Regions from separate parts of the Homo sapiens genome. Here all the other regions are linked to region 1. The links come from fine-mapping of genetic effects on gene expression. A gene starts in region 1. Each other region holds a variant in brackets. All regions are shown on one strand. Distances are between the middles of the regions.

What was found. PIP is the estimated chance that this variant, and not a neighbour inherited with it, causes the effect.
Region 2: its variant is fine-mapped to the expression of NEBL in whole blood (INTERVAL, PIP above 0.99).
Region 3: its variant is fine-mapped to the expression of NEBL in whole blood (TOPMed, PIP 0.98).

Annotation. Positions count from the first base shown.
Region 1 is chr10:20,894,756-20,901,299 of GRCh38, reverse strand. NEBL (nebulette) reads left to right here and starts at 3,989. Exons shown (of 28, transcript NM_006393.3): 1 at 3,989-4,175; 2 at 4,271-4,342. The coding sequence starts at 4,095.
Region 2 is chr10:21,204,440-21,210,983 of GRCh38, reverse strand. It overlaps a transcript of NEBL not described here. Among named protein-coding and RNA genes, the nearest start is that of NEBL-AS1, 34 kb to the right of the region's middle. The variant T/G (reference allele first, on the strand shown) is at 3,099.
Region 3 is chr10:21,216,257-21,222,800 of GRCh38, reverse strand. It overlaps a transcript of NEBL not described here. Among named protein-coding and RNA genes, the nearest start is that of NEBL-AS1, 46 kb to the right of the region's middle. The variant C/T (reference allele first, on the strand shown) is at 2,702.

The DNA.
Region 1 (6,544 bases):
GTTGCTAAGGAAATACATTTGCTTACGTGTAAACATCAAGCTATCAAAAGATCAGAAGACTTCTGAATTATAAATAAGCAAGTGAGCTCTTATCTTTAAGCTGTCTAGTTGCAGAAGGCCCTTCTTGACTTTAAAAGGATATTAATGGCACAGAGAATGAGAAGACCTTTTCATGCCAAATGTTTTTCACATCACTGTGTACCTTTATTGGTGGTTGAAAAAAAGCTTGTGTTTGTGAGGGGCTCCACTATTTTTAAGGTGCTTTTTCTTTTTATTTTTTTTAAGAGGGAGTCTCGCTCTGTCACCCAGGCTGGAGTGCAGTGGCGCGATCTTGGCTCACTGCAACCTCCGCCTCCCGGGTCAAGTGATTCTCCTGCCTCGGCCTCCTGAGTAGCTGAGATTACAGGTGTGTGCCACCATGCCCGGCTAATTTTTTTCTTTTTTCTTTTTTTTTCGGGATGGAGTCTCACTCTGTCACCTAGGCTGGAGTGCAGTGGCAGGATCTTGGCTCACTGCAACCTACGCCTCCCAAGTTCAAGCGATTCTTCTGTCTCAGCCTCCCTAGTAGCTGGGATTACAGGCGTAATCCCATCTACTGCCATCACACTCGGCTAATTTTTTTTTTTTTTTTGTATTTTAGTAGAGATGGGGTTTCACCATGTTGCCTAGGCTGGTCTCGAACTCCTGAGCTCAAGCAATCCACCTGCCTTGGCCTCCCGAAGTGCTAGGATTACAGGCGTGAACCACCGCACCCAGCCCATGCCCGGCTAATTTTTCTATTTTTACTAGAGACGGGGTTTGACCATGTTGGTCAGGCTGGTCTCGAACTCCTGACCTTGTGATCTGCCTGCCTCAGCCTCCCAAAGTGCTGGGATTACAGGCGTGTGCCACTGCGCACCCAGCCAGTGCTTTCTTTTTATTAACTTCTGTCAACTCAGTTTTTCTGTTTAACTATGAAGAATTAGAGGTAGTGAGGGGTTGAATAATTTGCCCTAGAGGACATGGCAGAGCCAGACCTGGACTTTGAGAGTTTAGCCATAAGTGATGTCTCTTGGTCTCATTCTGTATCAAGGCATGCGTAGAGTACTAAAGTAGAAAAGTAAACAACATAAAAGAAGTGCCCAATAAGTAAAAGCTATGAGCAGCTACAGAGATTTTGCCTTTTGGAGCAACCCAAGGTGAAAATATCTATTAAAATACATTAAGCTTGGTTTTTGGAAAAGTCGATAGGGGATTTTGAAACATGATAGCTGTCCATGAGGAACACTTTCTTCATATTCTCCATGTCATATTTTAGAGCTACTGACAAGAAAACTTTGCTGTGATGAAGTGCAGGGCTTAACACTTTTTTAGAGAAAACTTTGCATGAATTTTATATTATAGGTGAGAGGAAAAAAGATGTATTCAATCAAAAGTAATGGTGTCTCTAGCTTGCCAAACGATCCATTAAAGACTTCATCCAGCAAGTGTTGAGTGATGAGTATTTTATTTCCAATTCTATCTTAGTATGAAGAATATTTTATTCACCATTCTATCTCTAACACCAAGCACAGTGCCTGGCATAACAACATTTATTTGTTGAACAAATGAACACAGGTCTCTAGTTAGGTTCTGATCCTAGTGCTTCATTGAATGGCTTTGTAAATGAGACACATAATTTTTCATAGCCTTCATTTTGTCATCTGTGAAAGAGAGGGCTTTAGGTGTATTGATTTCTTAAGGATCCCTTTGGCTTGAAATTCTGATTCTAGAATCTCAAATGGAAAATTTGTGTTCACATTGCACGTGGTGTTTGGTTTTTGTTTTCAAAAGTTTGTGCATTAAATCTCAACAGCTTATTTTCTTGCAGCACAGTGAAGAGTCCCTAAGAACATATTACGTGATGGGAAATGAGAAATAACTGCACTGCAAGCCTGATGAAGGTAATTCACCTTGGGGAATAGGTGTCACCCTGAGTAACACCAGTACTGTCTCCTCAAATATGAGCCAAAAGGTGTGTCTCAGGCAGTTTTGGCAAGATTTTCTCCCTACACTCCTAGAAATTTGCAAGACAAGTTTACAGAAATTACTCCTCCCTATTTCCAAATAAAGATAATGTAATAGATCTATAGAATATTAGAATAGTCTTCTGGCCAGCAGAGGACTTGAGGGAAATAATTGGAATGCACACATTCTTTCCTTTTACGGAACAAATAAAATATACAAGGAATGTCCTTGTGGAATCCACTACACTGGGCCAGCATGATATGGCTGTAATCTTAGAGTTGTGGTTTCCAAGTTCAGCATGCTTGAGGCAATTTCTTTTTGGTATTTTGTTGGTGAACAGGATATGTGATACCATTAATTTAGCCTGTATCAAAAACTAGTTCAAGACCAACAGCTCCTTCTAGAACACAACATTTTAGGAGAATAGAGCAATGTTTCCCTAAGCAGTCGGTCATATTTCACAGAGGAGTGTTAGTTTTCTGGGGTAGTGGGTATGATTAAAAAAAAGATAGGTAGATAGGTAGGTAGGTAGATTAGATTAAATTGGATTAGATTTGATGAGATAAACAGGTTTGTGTTCAGGGGAACACGAGGTTAAGCAAGCCTAAGCAGGTTTTTTGGTTGAAGGTCTTCTCAGAACTTCTAGTATGTCAATATGCCTTGTAGATCTCTAAGTGGCAGGGACAGAGACTGGGGTACAGATTTCCCAAACATATTTGTTTAAGAAACCTGCTTTTTTCCCCCAGAATCTTTTGTGGAACTTTTGCCTCATGGAACACAATTTCAGAAATAATTTATACGTGATGACTGTGTAGAATGTTTTTCTTGTCAGGATTTTCAGTTTAGGTAAGGCCAAGGCATTTTTTTTTTACAGTACATTGAAAACTAGATATGATATCAAGAGAAAAAATTATGCTTGGCTACTTAGAATGACATACTATTTTTAATAAATTTGTATTTTGTATCATCAGTATTACTATTCAGTGTAGGGTATTTTTTATGCCCAATGCTAATGTGCTATGACTTGGTAAAATTAATTTACCCTAGGATTTACATAACCAGATTAATAAATTGTGAGTTGTAGGGAGTCTTGGAATTGCCTGAATTGACATTAAAATATTTGTTTTGAGAAATTTTTTTTTAACCTTGGTTTTACGTAACCAAGGACATACACTACATTATAAATATTGTGATGGTTTATTTTTCCAAACTTTTCTGAATGTGGGGTGCCCATTGAGTAATAATGCAAATCACCAATGACTTTGTAAAAATTGACATGATGAGTAGAACTGCAGAATTCAAAGATGATGATGATGATTTTTGAAACGATGTTTCCAGAATTGTTAAATTATGTATCAACATATGTTAACTGCAACTTCTCATGTTTAATGATGTTTACAATTAATACAATACCATACTCGCCAGTATAATACTAACAGTCATAATTAACTCAGAATAGATTCTTTGAAGTGGTTCAAAGGGCTTTTCATAATAAATAAGTAGCCTCTAATCAGCTAATATAAAGTGGGTATTTTTTAGGATGTGAGAAGTACTGGTATGTCTGATAAAACATATAATTTAGGTTGACAAAATGAGTTTGAATGATCCAGATTCACTACCCCAAGTCAGAAGGAAGTCTGACATTCCAGTGAAAGCTTTATTTAGACAGAGACAAGGAATCTTTGAGATAACAGGCTTTGGACTGTGCTATCTTGAGTGTTAGAGCTGAGTAGTTTTCCCAGAATCTCTAAGTCCTTTTTATGCTCTTTTATGAATGAATAGAATTAGTAAAAGATAAATAAATTTTTTCTTTTGGATTTCTTAACCAGTGGAAAAAATGTTGACTTTAAAAGTTCATAAAATCAAATTTTGCTTAAGAATATGTTATTTCCACTTGTGAGGCCAGCCTGGTAGACCTCTGGGATCCTTTTCTGTTCACTCACACACCACTGAGATAAGGAGTGAAGTGTGGGCTAAATAGGGCTGAGGCTTGGGCAAGGGCATTTCTGCCAGAGCACCAGAGACGTCAGCATCTCAAGGGCACTGTGGTATGGAAAAGGACGCCACATGAGTAAATTTTAAAAATATAAATATTTTAAAGGGTAAAAATGAGGGTCCCTGTATTTGAGGATATAAAAGATGAAACTGAAGAAGAAAAGATAGGGGAAGAAGAAAATGAAGAAGACCAGGTGAGTGAGAAAACACATACTCAGACCAGCGTTTGTTCCTCTAAATTGACAATGAGAAAAATGTTCTTTCTGTTCTTTTCTTTTTTTTCAAATAGGTCTTCTATAAGCCTGTTATTGAAGACTTAAGCATGGAATTGGCCAGAAAATGCACGGAACTCATTAGCGATGTAAGTGGCTGGAGTAATTTTTGTCTTATTTTGCATTGCACCTGTGGTATTATTATGTTATAGAGTCATAGAGCTGTGGGGGAAACCCTGAAATCACCTTTTAAAACACAGTCACTTTCCAGATCATGGAACAAAGTCCTGAAATTTTCAGTGATTTCCCCAAGGTCACCTATACAGAGAATTTCTGCTAGAGCAAGTCTCCTCATTCTTAATCCAGAATCCTGTCCCTTATGAGTTTTGCTGTCACGCTGGCATGAAATCATAAGGCATTGAATTGCAGTATTTATTCCATTTGAGAACCCCCAAAGATTTTAAAATGAATATAATGATGTAATTTGTCTTGGGAGGCCCTCTATCTAAATGAATAGTCATTTTTTTAACATTTTGGGGCCTTCTGAACAATCTAATGAATGGACTTGTCTTCCAGAACAGGAAAATGCATATATATATATATATATATATATATATATATATGCATATAATATTTATTTACAATTCAGGATTTGTTGATTACTGACCTGCTTGCTAAGAACCCTGATATTAGTGCAAGGATATTAGTGCAAGGGGTATTTTTGTTGTGACATTTTTTAGTAACTGGGATTGGTTGATATTACACTTTAAGGGAATCCCAGAATTATTGAATGATTGAACATATAATTTTATGTTAAATATGTAAGCTAGAATTCAAGAAGTACAAGGAAAAATGTTGCTCACCAGGGATGAGAATTTAGATGATCCTCATTAGCGGTTCTAAGAGGATTGCTGGTCCAGAGAAAGGGTAACTCCTGTAAAGTGAATATGTGCCTGTGTCTTCATTTAGAGAGATGAGCACAATACTGGTTGTTTCTGTTGTTGATAATAAGCAAAATGATCAGAATGTTTTGCACGTTTGTTTTCTAACGGAAGTCAGTCCTGGGCAGGAGGGTAGTGGTCTGGCACATCCTCCAAAGTCAACCTGCCTGGGTTGACTCCCCAGTAACCTTGGGAAGGTTATGGAACCTGGCTTGGCTCCATCCCTCAGCTGTAACATTTATAATAAGATTAAATAATGGTAATGCATATAAATGCTGAATAAACTATCTGGAACATTGTGAGTACTCCATAAATGTTAGCTGTTATTAACTACTCTGTCTGTTACTTCCTTTTACATCCATCCAATCACAATTTAGATATGACTGGCTCTTTCTGACAAACCAGAAGGCAAGCACAAAGGATGCTGGTGGAAATCATACCCTTTCCCATATACTTGACATGTGATGTAATTACCCTTTAAATTAAGTATTTCTTTGTGCTATTACTTAATAGTCATTAGCTATTGTATGTGAAAGTTCTCTGTAAATTGCAGTAATAATAAGTGACAATGACAACAACAACAACAATAACACTATTGGCAACAGTTAAGATTTAGTGACTATTGTGTGCCAGGGATTGCAGCTTGCGAGGTAGGCGCTAGGCTTTTTCTCATTTCTGAAGCGAGGAGATAGAGGCACAGAGAGGTTCAGTACCTTGCCTGGGTCACACAGTTAAGCAGAGGCAGTAATAGTTGAACACAGAGGCCTCCCTCTTTACACTGCCAAGTTATCTCTCCCTGTAGATTTCCATGAAATGTTGTTCTTCGCCTTATTATTATTATGTTACTATTATTAGTAGTAATGCTACCAACTAAAACCCTGAGTTCCTAACCTCTTCCAGCTTTGATATATTTTTATTGAAGTGCAATTATAGCTGAGCTAACTTGTGTTACATAAACCATCAGGACTAAAGTGGTAACTGTAGTTAGTAGGTGATTTGGTTGGAGTTGTTTTGGATAAGATTGTCTATCAGTGACTTTAAAACCAACATGTTGTGAGGGGTGGTGGCCTTTATCATTATGCAAAAGCTAAATCCATACATTTCACACCCACGTAGGTAAAATGAAACAGATAGGCATACTTTCTGTTTATTACAGATTTTTGTGGCATGGTAGAATGTACTACTTAAATTTAGGACATGATTATTCTGCCTTAATTTTTTTTTTTTTTTTTTTTTTTAGACAGAGTCTCGCTCTATCACCCAGGCTGGAGGGCAGTGGCACGATCTCGGCTCACTGCAAGCTCCGCCTCCTGGGTTCACGCCATTCTCCTGCCTCAGCCACCCGAGTAGCCGGGACCACAGGCGCCTGCCACTAAGCCCGGCTAATTTTTTTGTATTTTTTTTTTTTTT
Region 2 (6,544 bases), 310 kb before region 1:
GTTTCCAAAGAACCTAGAGGGCATGCATGAAACAATAGGTGCAACCCAGCTAAAATTAACTCCTACTGGCTAGGATAGCTGTAAATGTAAAGCTACAGGTTTTTTAAAGACTTACAGTAGCTCATACATAGCGTGTACATTTATAAGCATTATTGAGTTGGAAGATAATGACAGTCACATGTTGAGAATAGAATATGATATCTTAACGTATGTTCCTCCTCTCTGTGAGTCTCAGGAGTCCAATTATTGAAACTTAAAAATGCAGCACTTTAGTGCATGACTCCAGAACCAGTGGGAATAAGTAACAACAAAAATTTTAATCTATTTACAGGCCTTACAAGATACATAGAATGATATGGAAAAAACATACTTGACACAAACATTTAATTGTATGATTTTGCTTTGAATTTTTGTTTGTAAAAATATACATATTCCTCCTTAAAAATGGCAGCAATGTTATATTGCCTAATGTTAATTTTCTTTCTGCATATTTGTATAATGAGATAAATGTCAAATCTGTTAGAAGTATATGTATTGGACTGGAGAGTTTGGTTTTCTTAGTTAGGATGTTTTTCTTTCTTTCTTTTTTTTGAGACAGAATTTTGCTTGTCACCCAGGCTGGAGTGCAGTGGTGCAGTCTCGGCTTACTGCAACTTCCGTCTCTCAGGTTCAAGTGATTCACCTGCCTCAGCCTCACTAGTAGCTGGGATTACAGGCGCCTGCCACCACACCCAGCTAAGTTTTTTGTATTTTTGGTAGAGACAGGGTTTCACCATGTTGTCCAGGCTGGTCTCAAATTCCTGACCTCAGGTGATCTGCCTGTCTTGGCCTCCCAAAGTGCTGGGATTAGAGGTGTGAGCCACCATGCCCTGCCCATGATGTTTTTCCTACAAGGAACAGAAACCTTGCTTCAAATGATCTTAAACAATAAGGACATTTTGAGGCTCGTGGAACTGGAGGTATTGAGCAATTGGGGCTTTAGGGTCAGCTTAACCAAATGGGTCTGGTTTTGGGGAAATTCTATCAGCTGTATCCTCTTTTTGGTCTTGGTTTAATTCTAAGGTCCCTCATCCTGACAAGCGTGACACCAGTTCCTGGCTCCACAAGGATAATCGTGGAGTGCAAGGAAAGACAGTGTCAGCCTGGATAGCCTTCCCCAGCAGGGCAACAATCCCTTCTGGACCCAGGCACTGATTATCTTTCTGTTTCTCCATCTTTGACGTGTAGGCCTCTGTTCTCATGTTTGTTACCTCGTGATCTCAAGATGGCTCCTGGTCCTCCAGGAGTCACAACTGTGGTAAAAAAAAGAAAAAAAAAAAAAAGAAAAAAAAAAAAGGTCAGGTGCCTAATTGTATCAGGAGATAGGAGAAACTTCCTGGAAGACACATCCTGCAGACTTCTGCTTATGTGCTATTGGCACGTATTGGGTCCTGTGGTCACTGGGACATATACTTCCAGCTGCCTACCTGAAGTCCATTTTCCTCTCTTTCTTTTCAACAGAATCTTGACTTTTTTCAGAGGGGCAATGTATCCATGAAAAAATACACATCTCCCGAGGCTAGACTTTCCAGATTTAGCAAAAACAAACAAAAAACAGGATACCCAGCATGGGACATACATACTTATACTAAAAATTATTTGTTGTTTATCTGAAATTCAAATTTAACCGAACGTCCTGTGTTTTATCTGGCAACCCTTCCCTAGGTTTTCTTAAGGCAGTGTAGTCATGAAAGAGACCATCCTATGAGAGGGGGGCTTCCAGAAAAGTCTTTTTAAAAAGCGACTAAACTTGTCAGACACATTCCTTTTGTCATTTGCACTTTGCCCTTTCACCTTTCCCCTGCCTGGAATTTGGGCAGAATACCTGGCACCATCTTGCAACTGGGAGACAGAATTCATACTTTAAGGATTGCAGAGAAAGAAGGGAGGAGAAGCCGGATTCCTTAAACATCTCTGAGTTACCTACTCCCAGATTCCTTGCTGTATAAAAACAAACAAAGGGCACCCTTATTTGGCCGAGTCACCATAGTTCAGTTCCTATCACATGCTACCAGGAGCAGTCTTGACTTATCTAGCTACTCCTTGCTGGAAGGGTGAGGTGCAGACTGGCTGGTTGTTTACCAAACTGTTCTGTTTTCTTTTTCCCTGCCATGCTGTTGGACTACGTTTTCCCAGGCCCCTGCAGTTAAGTGGGGTTGTAGGGCTGAGTTCCAGCCCATGGAATGTGGGTGGAAGGAATGTATGTGACTTCCAGGCCTGCTCCTTGCTCGTGCTCTCCCCACCTGCAGCAAGAACAGGGGCCATAGGGAATAGTGGAGACATTGGAAGAAAGCAGCCTGGGTTCATGGTGACTTCTGGAAGTAGATCCCTCTCATTTCATGCTGACCCTCACTGTTCTGTAACATGAGCAAGAAATAAACTTCCCTTGTGTCAGCCACTGAAACTGTCCCTATAAACTTTATAAAATTAATTAGAGAAGGAGGGAGGGAGAGAAACAAAAATAAACCAAGTTTTAGCATATTCAGCATTAATCATGAGGTCAGCCTGCTGTCTGACCTCTTCCTTGTAGTTGTTCAGTACCTATTGCCTCAGAATTGCTAGAACCTGTTACAAGATTATAGTTCCCTTAACTGCCCTAAAGACAACAACTTGCACATTATGAGACATTAATTTTTCCTTTTGAGATACTCTTTCAGGTCCTGCATACTAGTGAAACTAGACGTTAGCTGGTCTGAAGGACCCCCATGAGCTGAGTCATCAAAGAATGCAATTTCTATGTCCTGATGATTTCATCCATCTTACCTTGACCAATCAATGACCCCAATTTCCTAGCCCTTTATCCTCCACAATCTTCTTAAAAACCCCAGCCTAGAACTCCTCAGGGAAATGGATTTGAGGTTTTCCTCTCATATCCTCACTTGGCACCCTGTGATCATTAAACTCTTTCTCTGCTGCAAACTCTGCTGTCTCAGTGTAGTTGGTTTGTTACTGTGCAGTGGACATATGAACCTGTTGGTCCTGTGACACCACTGAGACGCTGGATTCTTTGGGATCAACTAATTCAACAGTATCTGTCATAAGAGAGACTGCTTCGGGCC[T/G]ACGTTCCAAGTTAAGAATCCTGAGATTCACCCCATTGGACCCTGTATCTTCTGTCCACTTTTTAAATGAATGGTTTCTAGAACCTAGAGACAGATGTTCCATAGGTATAGCTAGTCTGTGGGTAGAGGGCTGCTTTTCCAGTGCTAGGACCTTAGGCTGAGAGATGCAACCAGTCTGTAAGGAGGGAGCCAGGGAAAGAACTACCCTGGATTTACCCTTCCCCTGCTCCATGATCTCCTGCAGGGGCTCCCATTGGCCAAACCCAACCAGAAGCTCAAGGTCATGAGAGCCCATGATGTAGTCCAGCAGGGTCAGGCTTCTAGGGCAAAGTAGGGTGGAGAAAGGAGGGGACAACAGGCTGTGTGTGTGTGCACAGTCAATACAAAAACCAAATCTGGGTTTTGTTAGGATGTTGGAAAGGGGACAATGATGCCATCTTTATAGAGTTAATAAGAATTCTGGGCAGAAATATTGTTATAATTAAGCATTAATCAGGCTGTACTTTGACTCACTTCCTTATGACTGAAAGTCACATAGTACTAGATATAGACCATTCACATCCCCATCATTCCTATAGATAGGATGTCTGACATTAGAATTATATGGCTTTTGGCTGGGCGTGGTGGCTTACGTCTGTAATCCCAGCACTTTGGGAGGCCAAGGCAGGTGAATCACCTGAGGTCAGAAGTTTGAGACCAGCATGGCCAACATGGTGAAACCCCATCTCTACTACAAATACAAAAATTAGCCAGGCGTGGTAGTGGGTGTGTGTAATCCCAGCTACTGAGGAGGCTGAGGCAGAAGAATTAGTTGAACCTGGGAGGCAGAGGTTGCAGTAAGCCGAGCCTGCACCACTGCACTCTAGCCTGGGCTATAGAGCAAGACTCTGTCTAAAAAAAAAAAAAAAAAAAAAAAAGAAAGAAAAAGAAAATGATAATATGGCTTTTGCTTAAGATAGGATCCCCAACATTGGAATTGTAAGGCTTTTATTTAAGAATTACTTAGTTATGTTTTTTTCTGGTCCTGAATTCCAGTGAAACAGCTGATGACAACCAGCTGGAAAATCCCCACAGAGGAATGGGATTGGCGTGGGAATACAGCTTCTTCATCTCCCTGTCCCACGACTTCTTCTGGCACTCTTCTACCAGTCAACGATCTCTATACTTCAGCCCACTCCCAAACTCTCGAAAACCCTAGCCTCAAACTCCTTGGTGAGATAGATTTGAGGTTCCTCCTGTCTCCTCATTCAGTGGCCCTACTACAAAACTTTTTCTCTGCTGCAACCCAGTGTCTAGGTATGTTGACTTCCCATAAGCAATGGGCAGGCAATGAACCTATTACAGTTACAGTAAGGGAGGGTGAGGAGCAATCCACAGTTTCTACCCCCCTGGTTAGATCTCAGCCCCTGGGGGCTAAATTCATGGCTACAACTTATTTTTGAGATAAAAATATTTTGGCCATGTGACAAGCATGTAAAAGGAACGACTTCTGAATTTTCACTAGCACATGTTAAATTCCAAGTTCTGTAAGATGTTGAGTAACTTATTTATCAAAGCATTAGAGTTGCCAGGACAAAATAACTTATTTTAGTAGTATTCAATGTATACATTTGCTTTAATTCTTCTGCCAGAGCTCCTTACTTAATTCTGTCTCCTTAGGATTTAAAAGTGTTCCTGCTAACAGCGATTAGGATATTAGCAAGATGCATTGCGTTACTAATATTTTATATAATCCAATGATCATTTTATTGGCCAGGACTTTTTGGTCTCTTGTAATTGGTTTTATTCCAGAACATCCTGATGAAGCTGATGCTGAAGACAATCTTAGGTTTGTACTTTTAGTACTGAGTGAATTCCCATATTAATTGGCACCTGATGACTAATGGTTCATGCATAATCTTAACGATATTTTTGTGCCTGCTGATACTAATCATAGCAGTCCTACTGATGCATTGTGAAATTATATGCTAAATTGTTTTGGAGATTATCATATATCTTATTCTATGGAGGCTTTCCTTAGCTGCATGTTTATGAAATTTTTAGTGACAATCACACTTTCCTACCTATCCCTGTGAATGAGGTAGAATAGGTATTATTATTATTATGTAAAAATTTGGTTAGTATCTAATACTTATTATAGAGCAATCATAAATATACCTAAATATAAGGTGAAAATAAAAATCACCTTTGTTCTACTACCCAAATTTAGCTTTGATTAATAGGTTGGTGCCAAAGTAATTGTGTTTTTTTCCATAATATATTGGTATATATTCTTTCAGAATTTTGTCCAAGATGTAATAAGTTTTCTTCTTACAAAAATGGGATCTATATTGTTCTGTAATTTGTTTTTTTGCTTACATCATGAGTATTTTTTCATATTAAAAATATACTTCTGCAATGTCACTTTTAATAGCTGCAAAGTATTCCACTAAAGATACACTGTAATTTGTTTAAATATTCTCTTGATTTTGGACATTTGATTTCTTATTTTTGACATTATATACATTGCCCTAAATATCATTATGTGTTCATCACAATACACATTCATTCAGCTCTTGTCCAATTATTTTAGGACAAATTAGCTAGAAATAGAACTGCTGGACTACATGGTAAACAAAATGTTAAGGCTTTTGCTACACATTTGGGGCAGATATTGTAATCTTACTTTGTAAATAGTATCCCTTCAGGGTCATGTACCAATTTGCCTTGTTTCAGTCATGAATTAGACACCTTTATTGTTGTAATATTGGGTTGGAAGATGCAGATAACACTGATAAATTCTTGTTTTCATGCCTAGATGCAACTTGGAGTGCACAGTGAGCATTCTTAGTTGCAAACAACAGAAATGGACTCTGACTGATTGAAGCAGGAAAGTAGTTTATGAAATAGTAGCTCTTTGAATCCTTGGAGGGCAGGACCCTGGTGCAAGGCTAGGCAGCCAGGAAAAGGGATGAAAATGATGCAGCAGAAAAAAACCACGTCTGCTGCCCCAGAATGCTAAATGTCATGGTTTCATGACGGGGAGTGCAGCAGGCTCTGTCAATGCCCCACCTGCAGTTGCTTGGCACCCACCACTCCTTCCTCAGTCACCTGTGATTCTGAAAGTACCTGTGATTCTCTCCTGAGGGCTGCCTCTGACAATGCTCTGCCCACCCCAGGCAGGGCAGGCTGGGTGTCATGGAGTGATGATGCCCTCAGGACAAAAGAGAATCACAGGATGTATTCCTCTGCTAGGGCTTCCTTAACAGAATCCCACAGCCTGGAAGCCTTAAACGATAGAAATCCATTTTCTCACAGTTCTGGAGGCGGGAAGTCCAACATCAAAGTTCTGGCCCGTATAGTTTCTGGTGAGGGCTCTTTTCCTGGCTTGCAGACAGCTGCCTTCTTGCTGTATCTTTATATGGTCTGTCATCATGTGCGCATGGAAAGAGAGAGAGAGAGAGAAA
Region 3 (6,544 bases), 320 kb before region 1:
ACAAGAACAAAACTCTGTCTAACAAAAAAAAAGAAAACTAAAAGAGCATAATTGGATTGCTTGTAATGCAAAGAAAGGATAAATGCTTGAGGTGATGGATATTCCATTTACCCCATGTGATTATTACACATTGTATGCCTGTATCAAAATATTTCATGTACCCCATACATATATACACCTACTATGTACCCACAAAAATTAAAAATTAAAAAAGTAACACAAAGAAAATAGTAGTGACTTGGCAGGGTTAGAAATTTTAGAATTGGCAGCAATAAGGTATTAGTAAAAAAGTTTTTCTTTAATCATATTAACCAAAAACACCATCAGCAACAATAACACCAAAAACACAGAACAAGTAAACTGTGGATTTCACAGGAGAAAATGAGATTTGAAGAGTAAAAAAATGAAAAAAGCAAAGCAAAATACGTAATTTAAAGGAATTATTCTCTAGGATATAAAAATGGTGAGAATTAAACTGAAACCTAGTTTCAAATCATTACCCTTTTTTTTTTTTTTGGTAGAGACAGGGTCTCACTGTGTTGCCCAGGCTGGCCTCTCAACTCCTGGGCTTAAGCGATTCTCCCACCTCGGCCTCCCAAAGTGGTGGGATTACAGGTGTGAGCCACCGTGCCCAGTCCAAATCACTAAACTTTTTGAAAGCACCTCTTCATTTTGGGTATACCATAATTTCAAAATATAAACTTCAAAATGAGATAGTGGTATAAAACCTGTTGAAATGAACATGGCAGAGTTCACTGCAGCCCAATGACAGGCTCCCATTTGGTTCTCGGGGGCACCAAAGAGAACGGGCTTGCTCAGAGCCTCACTACCTCCTTCTAGGGGGTCTCATCTTTCATCACTCAACGCCATGCAGTCAGGATGGGCACCTAGGTCTCAGTGTTTATGTAAAAAGGAACAATACAAAGATGAATGAGAGAGGACAGAAGCCAGGACTTTCTTAATTTCCCTGATGTAACTTGCTAAAAAGTTTTTATTTTTAAGTGAAAAGAAATCATGCCTGTAATCCTGGCACTCTGAGAGGTCAAGGCGGGCGGATCACTTGAGGTCAGGAGTTCAAGACCAGCCTGGCCAACGTGGTGAAACCCTGTCTCTGCTAAAAATACAAACATTAGCTGGGTGTGGTGGCATGTGCTTGTAGTCCCAGCTACTCAGGAGGCTGAGGCAGGAGACTCGCTTGAGCCTGGGAGGTAGAGCTTGCAGTGAGCCGAGATCGGGCCAGTGCACTCCAGCCTGGGCAACAAAGCAAGCCTCTGTCAAAAAAAAAAGAAAGAAAGAAAGAAATCAGACATCTGTTTTTCTTGTAGAATAGGTAGGACTTGAAAGAATGCACTGAGAAGATGAAGGCTGACTTACGTGTGTCTCATTGAATGATAGTTTAGCATGCTGTGACTGCAGGGGCTTAGCTCTCATCAGAGTAGCCTCGCACATTTGTGTCAGTTATTTTTTTATTCTTTATTTTTAAATCCCCATCCCTCAGCTTTGTTAAGGTACAATTGACAAATAAAAGTTGTATATATTTACAGTGTACAACGTGATATTTTTATATATGTATACATTGTGAAATGCATGAGTCAAGCTAATTAACCTATCCATCACTTCATGTAGTTATTTTTAAATATGTTTTTTGAGGTAGAGTCTCTCCCTGTCACCCAGGCTGGAGTGCAGTGGTGTGGTTATAGCTCTCTGAAGCTTCCAACTCCTGGGCTCAAGCAATCCTCCCACCTCAGCTCCTGACTACTGGGACTCCAGGTGCATGCCACTACGCCTGGCTAATTTTTAAAATTTTTTGTAGACATGGAGTCTTGCTGTGTTACCCAGGCTGGTCTGGGACTCCTGGCTCAAGTAATCCTCCTGCCTCGGCCTCCCAAAGCGCTGGGATTACTGGCATGAGCCGCCATGCCCAACTGTATGTCTTGTTTTGAGAAGAATCTATTCAGGTCCTTTGTCCATTTTAAAATTAGGTTATTTGTTTTGTTGATATTGAATTGGTTGAGTTCCTTATATATCTTGAATATTAACTTCTTATCTGATGTATGATTTGCAGATTATTTTCTCCCATTCCATAGGTTATCTCTTCACTCTGTTGATTGTTTCCTTTGCTGTGCAGAACCTTTTTAGTTTGATGCAATCCCATTTGCCTATTTTTGCTTTTGTTGCCTCTGCTTTTGGGGTAACATCCAGAAAATCATTGTCCAGATCAATGTCATGGAGCTTTTCCCCTAAGTTTTCTTCTAGTAGCATTATAGTGTCTGATCTTACATTTAAGCCCTTAATTAATTTTGAGTTGATTTTTGTATATGGTGGGAGATAAAAGTCCAATTTCACTCTTCTGCATGTGGATATCTAGTTTCCTTAACACCATTTATTGTCAAGATTGTCCTTTCCCTATTGTATGTTCTTGGTACTTTTGTCAAAGATCAATTGATCATAATAGTGTGGATTTATCTGTGAGCTCTCTGCTCTGTTACATTGGTCTATATGTCTGTTTTTATGCCAGATGCAAGCTGTTAGAACTAATAAATGAATTCAGTAAAGTTGCAGGATACAAAATCAACATACAAAAATCACGCCGGGCATGGTGGCTCATGCCTGTAATCCCAGCACTTCGGGAGGCCAAGATGGGCGGATCACTTGAGGTCAGGAGTTCGAGACCAGCCTGGCCAACATGGTGAAATCCTGC[C/T]TCTACTAAAAATACAAAAATTAGCCAGGCATGGTGGTGGGTGCCTGTAATCCCAGCTACTTGGGAGGCTGAGGTAGGAGAATTGCTTGAACTGGGAGGTGGAGGTTGCAGTGAGCCGAGATCGTCCCATGGTACTCCAGCCTGGGCAACAAAGCAATACTCTGTCTAAACAAACAAACAAACAAAAATTAATAGCATTTGTATACACTAACAATGAACTTTCCAAAAAAAAAAAAAAACCCAAGAAAATAATCTCATTTACAATAGCACAAAAAATTGAGGAATAAATTAAACCAAGGTGAAACATCTGTACACTGGAAACTGTAAAATATTGATAAAGGTAGTTGAAGAGAACACAAATAAGTGAAAAAACATCCTATGTTCATGAATTGGCAGAATTAATATTGTCAAAATACATATACTACTCAAATCGATCTATAGATTCAATGCAATCTCTATCAAAATTCTGATAGCATTAGAAAAAAACAGTCCTAGAATTCATATGAAACCATAAAAGACCAGGAATAGTCAAAGCAGTCTTGGGCTACAGGCATCACACTACTTCATTTCAAAATGTTCCACAAAGTTATAGTAATCAAAACAGCATGCTACTGGAGTAAAAATATCAGTTGTTTTTTAAATGCCAAAATGAGCTTATTTGAGGAAAAAAATGGTAATAGAGTCTAGGAGTACAGACACATTTACATTTGCTTCAATACTCTTGAATGTCAATAGGTTGGTTTTAGCCTCCGAAATATACATTTTAGTAGCAGAAATTCTAGGCTTTAAGTCAGTCCTGACTACTTTGTAATTTATATAGCCCTCACTTATAAAAAATACATTTTTAATTTCATTTATTACTTATAATTAATACCTTTTCTCACTTTATTCCTAAACCAAATACACATCAAACACACACCCAACTCACATTTTTAGAAAGTTTTCATTTATAACAAATCAAAGGCTGATGTCTTGGCCTGACCACATGCTCCTGCAGGGGATTGGGGTATGCCATCCCAAAATATGCCACTGTGGCATGAGGATTATTTTGAGCTGAAGGCAATGAGAATCAAATAGGAAGCATTCTCTTCTCTCCTCTTTTCTGCCTAAAAGCAGGGCATAAGGTTCCGTCTGTGAAGGTTTCCCCTGTCCTGTACCAGGAAGAGGAGAGCAAATGTACCAGGAAGTTGGAGGGTCAGCAAAATGAATGTGCATAAACAGATTTTACGAAAATAACCCTTATCTCCCGTTAGCTTTCTCCATATAGTTCCTACTCACTTTGCTGCAATTTATTTTCCCTTGAAGCCCAAACCCTTTTTCCTTTGTTACAATGGCATGTGTCCCCAAGTCTGATCACTTCCTTGGGTTCTCCTTCTTTTCTGTGACCTCCCAGTGCATGTAGATATCGATAAATTGTGTATTCCATTTCTCCTGTTTAATCTGTCTTTTATCAGTTAAATGTGAAGGACCCAAGTCATGGAACTTTTGTGTTCCATGGGCAGAGGAAAAGTTTTTCCTCCTCAACACTCCTGCATTTTTTCCTCTTTTAAATAATTTATTTTACATCTATTATACCACACAGCATGTCTGATATATAACTCCTTTATAAGATAAAGCAAAGATAAAAAAATTTTATCTTATGAGAAAGAAGACACACCATCACATAGAGTCTTCAAATATCATTGCATTGTAACTTTTGTAATCTGACAGTCATGAAACTATCTGTAGAATGGTTTAAACAGGCAAATTAAAGAACACTATCAAGCAGACCTGAACTGTCCTAAATTGTTAGGTATGCATTTTGCAAACATTACTTTTATCGATGGTAACGGTGGGGCTGGGGAGTGTTGTGTCTTTTCCCACCTGCCTGGTGACGATCGCCACAGGATGTTGGGATGAGTGGCCCTTTCCAGGGCCAAGGCTCTTGCGCCTACAGATAGCAGCCCATATCTGTCCCTGTACTTGTGGCCTGGCTTGGTGATTGCCTGGGTGTCAGGATTTCTTCCGGTAGCTTTATGAAAAGTATCCATGAGGCCAAAGAATTTGTATGTGGAATATTCGTACACTAGCTCACCGACCAGGTCAGAACTCAAGACTCTCAGAGCCCCAAATGATGTCCAGCTTGTCCCTCCGCAGCAGACTGAAAGCTTGTAACAAACTTTAGCTGGCTAGTACTGTGATGGACAGGCTTGCTGTAGGTTGCACCCTTAGAGTAAGTCGCCATCTTAGCTGACTTGTTGGTTGCTGCCAGATGGAAATGCACAAATTGCAGATGAGGTTTGAATCATCTTTGTGCCAAGCCAAAATAAATGGAAAATACAGCTTTATAATAATGACTACTATTTGATGAAAATTTCATTTGTGGCAGAATTGTCACAAATACCATGAATCTTCAAGTAATACTATAGAGTAAATATTGTTAAACCCATTTGCAGGTGAGAAGACCAAGATTCCAAGCAGCGAAGTATCTTATCTAGGGTCATATAGCTAGTAACTAGCAGAGCCTGGATTTGAATCCACAGTTGTGTGGCACCCAAAGCCTACACTTTTTTTTCTCAACAGCAGATGCTATCAATGTTAAAGTTTTCAAATTATTGGAAGCCAGTCGTATTTAGAACTTGCTGGCCACCTGGCAATATTTGGGAGAGCTGTTCACCACCTTTAAATAAATAAATAGCTGCTGCTCCCCACTCCGAAACAAACCAGATAGAGTTTCCCCTGTGAGAAGCAGCTCCTTGGCAAGTCTATGCCTGTAATTTGGAGCACTGTCCCTTGTGACTTGGGCTCATGATTGTTTTGCTTTCTCTGTCTCTGGCTGTGGCTCAATTTGGAGGAAACTTCTGGATTCCTCTCCATGACCTCTTAAGTAAATTCTGTATACTTAACCTGATAACTACCCTCTCATCTGTTTTAGATTTTGGGGGGATGCCAGCTTCTCTGGGTGCTGCTGAAGAAGTCTTCCCCAACAACTGTGCGTGCAGAGGTGGACTTACCTTGAAGCTAACGACACTCACATCAGGTCCCCTCAGTGCAGAGCCCCTTCCCAGGGGTATTGTGTTCCTATGGTAGTAGTTTAGTAAAATTAGCAAAAGTATGATTTTTTTTTTTCTTCGAGACTGAGTCTTGCTCTGTCTCCCAGGCTGGAGTGCAGTGGCGCGATCTTGGCTCACTGCAACCTCCACCTTCTGGGTTCAAGCGATTCTCCTGCCTCAGCCTCCCAAGTAGCTGGGATTACAGGCACGTGCCACCACACCCGGCTAATTTTTGTATATTTAGTAGTGATGGGTTTTCGTGTTTCTTTTCTTTTTTCTTTTTCTTTTTTTTTTTTCGAGATGGAGTCTTGCTTTGTTGCCCAGCCTAGAGTGCAGTGGTGCGATCTCGGCTCACCACAACCTCCATCTCCTGGGTTCAAGCAATTCTTCTGCCTCAGCCTCCCAAGAAGCTGGGTCTACAGGTGTGTGCCACCATGCCCAGCTAATTTTTGTGTCTTTAGTAGAGACAGGGTTTCACTGTGTTGGCCAGGCTGGTATCGAACTCCTGACCTCATGATCCGCCTACCTTGCCCTCCCAAAGTGCTAGGATTACAGGCTTGAACCACTGCGCCTGGCCCAAGAGATGGGTTTTCATCATGTTGGCCAGGCTGGTCTTGAACTCCGGACCTCGTGATCTTCCCGCCTGGGCCTCCCAAAGTGCTGGGATTACAGGCATGAGATACTGCACCCGGCCAAAAAGTGTGATCTTTTAATTGCAGCTGGTTAGGACCACTGTGTCTTCCCCTTTTGACTTCTCCTTGTCTTAATTCTCCTTGAGTTGGGTGGCATTGAAGTAGCCACAGGCACTTGG